Linked DNA regions of Homo sapiens. The protein of the gene in region 2 interacts with the protein of the main gene of each other region in a pairwise test. Each region holds a gene or a part of one and is shown on either strand. Other genes may lie near its edges. The genes, in order: TRIP12, PTF1A and RBPJ.

Region 1 (3,651 bases), on a different chromosome or scaffold from region 2:
GGCACTGCAAGTGAGATAAAGAATCTCCTGCTGATGGTACTGAAGTTTCACACTCACAAACCCACCCATAGGTAGAATAAATGCTAAACATCAACATCGTACCCACCTCCAACAGGCAATCTTGGGCTACCAGTCACAAACTGGAGAAATAACCTCTGCTGCTCATTATCAAAACTACTGAGAATCTCAAACAAAAACTTCACAGCCCGACTATAACAGAAATAAATATACCAAAATTATTTCATCAGGTTAAAATAGAGTTTTAATCACACTGCATCGCATCACATGACATAAAAATTAGATTAGCACTTTTAAATTACACATACATTTTCCATTACAATGTACTTAAATTCGTTTCTGTTATGACTAGACTAGAATTCAAATGGAATGATTACAGTTGTAATAAGTAAGACTTGATCTGGTACTGTACAGATATTTCTGCTTTACTATATGTAATAATGGGGAACAAGATTAAATCTGTCTTCCCCAACCCCTAGTATTTTCACAGAAATACTTGAGAAAGAAACCCTTGGGTCTTAATTTCCCATCTTCAGAGAAATAAGGCCAAAACAGAAGTAAGCATCCATTAACAGGTAGACACATTTTAAAATGAACCACTCCAACTTTTGTTGTTTACACATGTGCGCATGTGTGTGTACACACACACCCCTCTCCACATTCTTCAGAATCAACAGAAAAACTGGCAGACCCCAGTACTTACCTGTCATGAGTATAACCATGATCAGGCCTACAGCATTCCATCAGTGTCTTTGCATCCCAAGTGTCTGCTTTACTGCCACAAAGGAGCTGATCCAGCTGTGAGTTTAAATAAGGGTAAAAAGAATTACTAAGGAAACATTTGTTTACGTGAGTGAAAATAAAGGTCTACGTGTACCATAAAAGAGTATCAGTCTCAGTACTAAAACCTTCTGCTTGGGACCTCTTTCCAAAAAAAAAAAAATAATAATAAAATAAAATAAAATTTAGAGATTCCATTTCCTTTTTAGCTGTACGCTATTAAGTACCCTGCCCATCTGCAGGGACTTGGTTCCTGAGAAACCCTTCCTCTCAAACCAAAAACACCTGATGACCCTTGATTTCAGTTTTCCTTTCTTCTCATTACTTTAGGTGCTTTAAATGGATAATCTGCTTCTAGTCAGGGAGATTTTATAAATCCTGGCTTTCAGAAACACAAAGGTATACAGTAACAGATGCCAAGGGAGAGAACATTGAGCTGGAGAAAGAAGTGGGAGAAGCAAGCTGAACTAGGACACAGCAAATGGGTAGGTCTTTACACTTTGTAGAGAGGCATGTCTACGCTACATGGTTGGTTGTATGGGGACCAACCCAGATATTATAGAATGAATATTAGAAAGCAATAAATGCTTTCATGTCCTTATACTTTGAGAAAATCCAATTTGAGGCCAATGAAATTTAATATCTATTATATAATGCTCACTGTCTGGTCCTATATATTTAAAGACAAAGCTTTGCTCTGTTGCCCAGGCTGGAGTGTAGTGGCCTAATCACAGCTCACTCCCGTCATGATCTCCTGGGCTCAAGTGATCCTCCAACCTCAGCCTTCCAAGTAGCTGAGACTACAGGTGCATACCACCACGCCCAGCTAATTATTTTTTTTATTTTAGACAAGGTCTCACTATGTTGCCCAGCCTAATCTTAAATTTCCGAGCTCAAGTGATCTTCCCACCTCCATCTCCCAAAGTGCTGGGATTATAGGCTAAGTCACTGTGCCCAGCCTATTTAATTTCCATTACTCTGTGATAGGGGTTATTCCAATTTTACAGATGAAACAGTCCTATCAGATACAGTAACTTGGATAAGGTTATACAGCAAGTGGTGAGGACCATGATTCTATTCCAGGTGACAAGCAGTGCCTACAAGTATCAGGCACACTACATGCTTAAGTAGACACAAATATAACTGAGATTAAGACGTTAAGTTAATCAAAAATTTATAGATTTAATCAGTAGTGAACATACACTCTAAAACTAGTATTCAAACAATAAATAAAAAGGTTTCAAAACTGAGGGAAACTGGACACATTCTAGAGGCTTTCTGTATCTCACTACCAGTGAGTAGTTCTTTTGAGATTTGGCACTTGAAATTAAAGACGGTAATATGGTTTGGCTGTGCCCCTACCCCAAATCTCATCTTGAACTGTAACTCCCACAATTCCCACCTGCTGTGGGAATGACCTGGTGGGAGGTAACTGAATCATGGGGGCAGGTCTTTCCCAGGCTATTCTCATAATAGTGAATATGTCTCACGAGATCTGATGGTTTCAAAAAGGGGAGTTTCCCCGCACAAGCTCTCGTCTTGTCTGCTGCCATGTGAGATGTGCCTTTCACCTTCCACCATGATTGTGAGGCCTCCCCAGCCACGTGGAACTCTAAGTCTAATAAACCTCTTTCTTTTGTAAATTGCCCAGTCTCGGTTATGTCTTTATCAGCAGCATGAAAACAGACTAATACAGGCGGCTAGAGAAAACCAAGCACATAAATCCATTTCTTCCATTCTCAGAAGTATTCTCTGTATTTGGCAATTAGATAATTTATAATACTTTCTTAAAACTTCAAGGACTAACTTTGATTGTGAAACAATGTCTCATCGAAACGAAGTTTAGTTAAGGAATAAAGTCAAGCCCCCTCCATGTCTCTCTTTGCTTCCACAGCAGTACAGAAACATGTAGAACATGCCACACACAGCACAAGTCCCCATTCTCCACTGAATGGCATTGAGGGTCTTGGCTGACAAAGATGCTATGCTTACTGTCACGCGTGGAACCCGCTCCCCAATCTAAGAGGGGACACCTATTTAACATTCTTCCTTGCTCAGGCAATTTCCTTGTCTTTCCCAAACATCCATCCCCTGCTATCTAACACCCATTTTTTTGTTTTTGTGCAACAATACGGTCTTTGACTAGGCAGCACAGAAACACTCCACTAAAATTATAGGTATGACCATTTCTTTTAGATATAAGCTACTCACTTCCTCCGGGTAGAAGTACTGAAGATGACTGAGTGGGAAGACTGATTCAAATCCATCTCTGAACGAATCAAATTGCCTAGAAACGCCTTCATTTAGTGCCCAGAATATAACCAGCTGCAAAAAGAAAGTTTTCAAAAAACTGTGACAAGATTTCAAATCTCTTTACTATTTAATATGTGGCAAAGTACAGTGAAACACCCTTCTGGATCACTTTATAAAGAACAAACAAGTTATTAAGACTTTAAAATAATCTGCTAGAAAACTACATGAGTAAAACATCAGGTCAACATCTAATGTGGGGCCCCTACCAATAACAAAATGTAAAAAAAAAATGCCATGTGCATTTACATTTAGTGTGTTTTAAAAATCTATTTATGTGAAACCCATGCCATACAGTTATATTACCTCACTGGATGGGAATCAAATGAGAATTTCCCAAGAGGATAAAATGTTATTGAGAATTAAAGGTAATGTTTGAAGAATCACAATTAGCCACTATTAAGGGTTTTTAATTTTTAACGTAAAATGTTTAGTTCTAAATCCTGTGAAGTTCTTAGAACCCAACCTGTCTGCAGTGTGTGCTTCCTACTAAAAGTAGGCAAAGCCTGGAAATGAAGTCACATGCAATTGAAGGGTAAGAAA
Region 2 (3,874 bases):
CCCAACAGAAGCCTCTAGTGAGACAAGTGCCTGAAAAAGGAAGCGGCCCAGGAGGACGACTCCTTTCAGTCCTCTGTAGAGAGAATACGCACGATGGCTGCGCTTCTGAACTCTCCCGGGGTGGAAGCTGCAGCCTGGCTTTTAACCGGAATTGCCCAGACCTTGAAAGTGTTTCTTTGTTGCTCTTAAAAAGAGGAATTCACGTTGCATCGCAGTCTGTGATAAAGTCTGTCTTGGGGCAGAGCTGCATACGTTTTGTGTTTTTTTTTTTTTTCAGAAAAGAAAGGTCGAGAAAGAAAAAAACAAGTCATTCAGGGATGGTCCCTGTGGCCAGTCGGAAAGGTGAGAGACTCGGGCTTTGAAAACGATTCACATTCTGCCCTTTAACTTCAATGCCTTCCCTCCGGACTGCGCCGGAGCAGACGATTCAATGGACTCCTTTTGTATCCAGTTTATTGCTCAGAATCCCTAGGGTCTAGATTTGCTCTCAGAAGAAACGCGCCCCGCTGAGCTGCTCTGGGGGCTGCCCCTCCCGTCTCCCCATTCCTTTCTCCGGGCCGGGGAGGGCAGGGGAGGCAGCCACTGAGCCGATGTCGCTGGGGACCCGCACCAGGCACCACAGCCAGGCTCCAGAGCGGAGTCCCATAGGTGCGCTCCCAGCCCCCGTGTTGCGTCTGGAACGCAGTGGGAGTGGGCCCGGATCACCTTCCAATGACACCCGCATATACTCTGCAAACTGTGCAAAAGCCCTTGAAAAGTCCAGAGATGGGACAGAAGCCCCCAGCAGAACCCAGGCCGGAGCCCCGCGCACCTCGGATAAGGGGGTGGCGGAATGCACCCACCTGGTCCCTGAGGGCAGCACCCTTAGATTGCCCAGGCTGCCGCGGAGGAGGACGATCGCCGCGCGGGCTCCGCTCTCGCCGTCTGGGCCACCGGCGCGCACCCCTAGGAACTTCTCTGGCCGCGTGTAGACGCGGCGCGCGGCTGCCCCAGTCCCAGGGCGGAAGGAGCCGGCGCTGCTCAGCGCGCGCGGGTACGCAGCGGGCACCGCGGGACGCAGGTGCCCCTGGAGCCGCACGCGGGGCAGGTACAGAATCCAGTATGCAGAGGCAGAGGAGAGGGAAGAGAGCGGTGCGAGGAGCCCCGGGCCGCGCGACCCCGCCTTTTCCTCGCCCCAGGAGCTCCCAAAGGGAGCAAAACGCCCCCCACCCCCGCCCACCGCCGCGCCTCCGGGCCCCCTCGCCGCCGGCACACCGCGCTCTGATTGGCTGGCGCGATGGGTCCCTGGCACGCGCCTATGGATGTTGTTATAAGAATCCTCGCGTGCCGGCCCTCAGCTCCAGGAAGTCCGCCACAGCCCTCCCCAGCGCAGCGCGAGCGCGGGCCAGAGCGCAGCGGCCGCGGGCACTCCAGGGAGGCCCGGGGGCGGGCAGCCCGGCGGCCGCCTAGCTGCCCCCAGCCAGGGCCCCGGGAGGGAGGGGCTCGGACGGGCCTTAGAAACTCACCAAGAACTAACACGCGCAGCCCGGCAGTCCCGCTGCCCACTGCGGCGGCGAGCATGGACGCGGTGTTGCTGGAGCACTTCCCCGGGGGCCTAGACGCCTTTCCTTCTTCGTACTTCGACGAGGACGACTTCTTCACCGACCAGTCTTCACGGGACCCCCTGGAGGACGGCGATGAGCTGCTGGCGGACGAGCAGGCCGAGGTGGAGTTCCTTAGCCACCAGCTCCACGAGTACTGCTACCGCGACGGGGCGTGCCTGCTGCTGCAGCCCGCGCCCCCGGCCGCCCCGCTAGCGCTCGCCCCGCCGTCCTCGGGGGGCCTCGGTGAGCCAGACGACGGCGGCGGCGGCGGCTACTGCTGCGAGACGGGGGCGCCCCCAGGCGGCTTCCCCTACTCGCCCGGCTCGCCGCCCTCGTGCCTGGCCTACCCGTGCGCCGGGGCGGCAGTACTGTCTCCCGGGGCGCGGCTGCGCGGCCTGAGCGGAGCGGCGGCTGCGGCGGCGCGGCGCCGGCGGCGGGTGCGCTCCGAGGCGGAGCTGCAGCAGCTGCGGCAGGCGGCCAACGTGCGCGAGCGGCGGCGCATGCAGTCCATCAACGACGCCTTCGAGGGGCTGCGCTCGCACATCCCCACGCTGCCCTACGAGAAGCGCCTCTCCAAGGTGGACACGCTGCGCCTGGCCATCGGCTACATCAACTTCCTCAGCGAGCTCGTGCAGGCCGACCTGCCCTTGCGCGGCGGTGGCGCGGGCGGCTGCGGGGGGCCGGGCGGCGGCGGGCGCCTGGGCGGGGACAGCCCGGGCAGCCAGGCCCAGAAGGTCATCATCTGCCATCGGGGCACCCGTAAGTGCTTCCGCTTCCCAGCTCAGGGAGAAGGGGTCGGGCACTCGAAGGCTCCGGAGGGGCTGGGGGAGCTGACTGCCAAGCAGACAGTCGGACCGACGGATTGTCGGTGGGCACGGAAAAACTTGAATGCGAGCTCGCGTTTCTCGTTTTTTTTTTTTTTTTTATTTTTCTGCCACGTTGACCGCGGCTCTCAAGGGCGCGCGTCCCCGCCAGACTTGCAGCTCCTCGGATTCCTGGGAGGGGACGGTGGGGACTTGAAGTGTGGAGGAAGAGGGTGGTTCTAGTATAACCGGAGAGCACCCAGGAAAGGGTCCTAAAGGACCTGATGGGACCAATGGGAATGTGGTTGGATATTCACAGTCTGTTTTCTCTTCTCACCTGTCCAGGGTCCCCCTCCCCCAGCGACCCTGATTATGGCCTCCCTCCCCTAGCAGGACACTCTCTCTCATGGACTGATGAAAAACAACTCAAGGAACAAAATATTATCCGAACAGCCAAAGTCTGGACCCCAGAGGACCCCAGAAAACTCAACAGCAAATCTTCCTTCAACAACATAGAAAACGAACCACCATTTGAGTTTGTGTCCTGAGAAGTCCCAGACTCGGCTGAAGATCTGATTATGTCTCTGTGCATATTGTACATGTAAATATCTATAATGTAAATGTAATTTAAGAATCAAATTTTTCGAATGGCAATCAACTGTTTATTATTTATCTATTTATTATCCTGTTGAGTTGATGAAATAGATGATTTCTTTTTAAATATATAATTTATATAACTTATCCTGATTTTCTGAAAATATGCAATAGCCTATGATTTTCCTGAACTCTGTGTTGTTGGGAGAACTCTGGCCAGAAAACGTCCTGCTTATTTATTGCCAGATATGGTTTATTTCTAAGCGTTGTCAATAAATGCTATTTACACCTTTTCCTGAAGGTTTTTGAGTACATGATTTGATAGATACTCTTTAAAAAGAATTAACTTAGTAAAAATTAACCAAACCAGAGACTCAAAGTGTAGCTTTTTAGTAAGAAACTACATTTCAGACTTAGCCTAAAGGTGGGTAGGTTAGAGGATTAGACCTCAACTTTCTATGACAGCACTTCATCTAGGTCGCCTGCCCTACACAGCAACTTTTGTCTGTATTTTGGGCCACCTTCCAAACACCCTATGCAAATACATCCTGGAGTATTTATTGTTCCCATTTTGCAGATGGTAAAGTTAAGGCTCAGAGATGACATTTGACTTACCCAAGGTCACCCCTACGTTGTCTATTCCTGGTGTATAAAAGTGAGCGCGCGGTGCACTGTGGGAGCAGGGAGCTAGTGGGCTAAGCGAATGGGCCTTTCTGCTTCCACTGGCTGGGAAAGGGGCTACTCTTGAGCTGCCCTGTGACCAACCTCTTCGGCAGCAACAGCATCAGGTACCTGGAACTCAGGCTTACTCCTCACAAAGGAGATGGGACAGGCTACGGTGCCAAAGCCTAGAGACCACTCGGAGGCCACTCAACAAAATCCAGGGTCTTTTAG
Region 3 (3,356 bases), on a different chromosome or scaffold from region 2:
ATGTTTTTAAATTACTGGTGAAATCTAAAATGTACAAACTGTGAGGTTAGCAGCTTGCAAAAATATGAAATTTTCATTTGCTGTTAATTATATACAAATACATGAAGCTATACACAGATATTTATCTCAGGTATGAGCATCCTTAACACACAATCCTCAGACATGCAAGCAATCCTTCCTCAAGGAAGAACTCAAAATTATGAAAATGTTCTCAGAGAAAACAGTTAACATCTAGTTCCAGGGTTCTTAATTGAAGAACAAAGAGCCCCTCAGGATATCCAAAAATAGATTTTCAGTGCTCATTGAATCCTCTGAAATTGTGTGCAAACATTGTATAGACAAAGCATTTTTCTGGGTGAAGGCTCAAAATCTCATCAGATTTATGTCGTGGTTTCCGAAGATAGTAATGATGACATGCTTTGAAAGCTAATGTTTTACATTTACTCAGAAGGCTTTCATGAGGTTATGACATGGGCAGATGATTTAATAAGACAGTTATGGTTTCATGTGAAACTCCTTTGCAGAGAGATGCCCATACACACTGATGGGCATGCTGAGTCCCTGGTCTAGGTGTGTTAAGGTAGGGGTAGGGGCTTTGCCTTCCCATCTTGATTCCCTCCCATGGAACATGCATAAGCTTCTAGCTGTTGCCTAAGCATGAGGAGTCCCATTGTCTTTCTTAGGAGTCCTTGAAGAGTTTTAAACAGCCATTTACATCACAGATATTGATCTGCTGTTAATGAAATTGTACCTGCATTGGTATACTCATAATGGTTGTTCTGAAAGGTATTATTATTTAATATGTCACTGAAATAGTTTGTATTATAAGAAAAACTGCTGTCTATGGGGTTTCTGTATTAGCATTCTGTTTGTGTTTATGTAGGGATTGGCAAAGCACCATACTTTAGAAAGTTTATAAGTTTTTACTGAGTTATCTTCTTATTAACTCTTGTCTGAGGGTTACTTGGTAAAATTTTCTTATCCTATTAATACAAACTGTATAAAACTTAGTTTCTAAACTTCTTTCTTTATTAGGCCACTCCATGTCCAAAAGAACCAAATAAAGAGATGATAAATGATGGCGCTTCCTGGACAATCATTAGCACAGATAAGGCAGAGTATACATTTTATGAGGGAATGGGCCCTGTCCTTGCCCCAGTCACTCCTGTGCCTGTGGTAGAGAGCCTTCAGGTGAGAACGCCTAGTCCAAGTTGGCCTTCAGCTCTTTGCAGCTACTCTCAGCTGTGACCTGGCATCATTTCATTTCATGGGAGTTTTGATTTTTCTCCAATCGTCTGATTAGGGGATTTTTATATACACCATTTGTTGATTTAAAGAAAAAAAAACAAAATTAGGAGGAGCGTACTTGCCAGAAAATTTAAATGTAAATAAACTTGTATGTTATCTTGAAATGTTTTTAGCTAGCTTTGTAATAAAAAACATTTTAATTGCCCTTTTTTAAAAAAAACAAATGAAAGTTGAATGAGAATCTAATTTGTGTACTTTAATGAAAAATGAAAAGTTTTCTCAGTGTTGTGATTTTCTGTGAATTGCAGTTGAATGGCGGTGGGGACGTAGCAATGCTTGAACTTACAGGACAGAATTTCACTCCAAATTTACGAGTGTGGTTTGGGGATGTAGAAGCTGAAACTATGTACAGGTACTTGATAAAACTTTTTGCATCATCCAGAGGTTGTGAGGGGTGTGGGTACAGGAGATTCTTTCCTGGCACTGATTGTAATGTATTAAACAACCTTGTGTTAAGTCTCATTTTTAACATGTACTTTGCTTTTTAAAGTGTTTTTAAGTGATTTCTATTTCCTCCTCAGGTGTGGAGAGAGTATGCTCTGTGTCGTCCCAGACATTTCTGCATTCCGAGAAGGTTGGAGATGGGTCCGGCAACCAGTCCAGGTTCCAGTAACTTTGGTCCGAAATGATGGAATCATTTATTCCACCAGCCTTACCTTTACCTACACACCAGAACCAGGGCCGCGGCCACATTGCAGTGCAGCAGGAGCAATCCTTCGAGCCAATTCAAGCCAGGTGCCCCCTAACGAATCAAACACAAACAGCGAGGGAAGTTACACAAACGCCAGCACAAATTCAACCAGTGTCACATCATCTACAGCCACAGTGGTATCCTAACTACCGTCTTTTTGCTAGGACTTAAACTGACTTGAGTGTGGCAAAAAGTTAACAAAAAAGGAGAAAAAATGAACAATCGTTTGTGGTTTCTTGGGAAAACTTTTCATACCAGGTGATACTATTCAAAAACCCCGTTGTCTCCCTGCAAGTGCTGATTTGAAATGCAGAAGCCACAGTAAAAAAAAAAAAAAAAAAAAAAAAAAAGAAAAAAAAATCAAAATGTATAAATATTGGAAATCAAGTTTTTCAGCTGTTTTGTTGGTTGGTTGGTTGGTTTTTGTTTGGTTTTGTTTAAATGGGCAAGAAGTAAATAATGTGGCTGGAATACAAGTTGAACAAACTAGAAGACACAAATCTAACATAGTTTTTATGGACCAAGGAACTTGTATATTGTATAAGCTTTAGTAAAAGGTACATTTTCACCATACCTTTTTTTATATCACGGTATTATAGTACACCTTGTTACCAAATAGGTTGTTCTCTTCCCCACCCACCTTTGAGCTTTTGCTCTAAAATACATTCAGGTTCCAAGCCTGACCATCCTTGTTTAATCTATCATACTCTTCCAGGTTTTTTTTTTTTGGTCTAAGGCTGGAACTTTTTTCTTTTTTTTCAGCTGAAGTCTTATGACTTTTCATGAGTCAAAATTGTTTGGATTTCAGCAAGTCAAATCTTGCAAAGGCCTGCATATTTTTTTTAAGATTATATGAAGTCTGTGCAAAAGCTTTAAAAAAATGCCTCTGCCTTGCCTGCAATACATGCAATGTATGTTAACTTAGTCTCTCTTCTCAGACACTGTTGGTAGTTATTTCTGTGTTTTCCTTTTTTTAAAAAAAAATATGGACTTATTGTGGTTATCTGAGAGGTTCTAACATTCACATGCAATTTGGTGTGGCCATTTAGCTATTAATGAGTTAATGGCGCAGAACTTGTTGATATTTGAAGTGTTCTCTCCCCTTTTCCCATGACGTAAATACATAGGTGTGTTCCAGGATTTGTTCAGGTTTTTCCCCCCTCCTAATCTTGTACATAACTTGTATTATGTGTAAGTTAAACATTTTATTTTGAACTTGGAATGTTCCCAGTGATTTCATTCAGCAGGGTATTTTCTGCCTTGTTGGCAAGTGACAAAAAATATGGGAAGTATTTGCTACCAGTTGGTAGATGGTGCCCTTAATGGTAGAATGAGGAAAATGTCCGCAAAAGCATGT

What was found.
Region 1: the proteins of PTF1A (region 2) and TRIP12 interact in a two-hybrid assay, tested with the Homo sapiens proteins (one study listed by BioGRID).
Region 3: the proteins of PTF1A (region 2) and RBPJ interact in a two-hybrid assay, tested with the Homo sapiens proteins (one study listed by BioGRID).

What each region holds. Positions count from the first base shown.
Region 1 is NC_000002.12:229,768,510-229,772,160, forward strand, and holds part of TRIP12 (E3 ubiquitin-protein ligase TRIP12), read right to left. Parts: intron 3,124-3,651; coding exon 3,010-3,123; intron 817-3,009; coding exon 722-816; intron 211-721; coding exon 107-210; intron 1-106. UniProt on the Homo sapiens protein: E3 ubiquitin-protein ligase involved in ubiquitin fusion degradation (UFD) pathway and regulation of DNA repair.
Region 2 is NC_000010.11:23,190,973-23,194,846, forward strand, and holds PTF1A (pancreas transcription factor 1 subunit alpha), read left to right. Parts: upstream 1-1,339; 5' UTR 1,340-1,558; coding exon 1,559-2,342; intron 2,343-2,731; coding exon 2,732-2,934; 3' UTR 2,935-3,273; downstream 3,274-3,874. UniProt on the Homo sapiens protein: Transcription factor implicated in the cell fate determination in various organs. Binds to the E-box consensus sequence 5'-CANNTG-3'. Plays a role in early and late pancreas development and differentiation.
Region 3 is NC_000004.12:26,428,863-26,432,218, forward strand, and holds part of RBPJ (recombining binding protein suppressor of hairless), read left to right. Parts: intron 1-1,035; coding exon 1,036-1,191; intron 1,192-1,556; coding exon 1,557-1,660; intron 1,661-1,829; coding exon 1,830-2,145; 3' UTR 2,146-3,356. UniProt on the Homo sapiens protein: Transcriptional regulator that plays a central role in Notch signaling, a signaling pathway involved in cell-cell communication that regulates a broad spectrum of cell-fate determinations.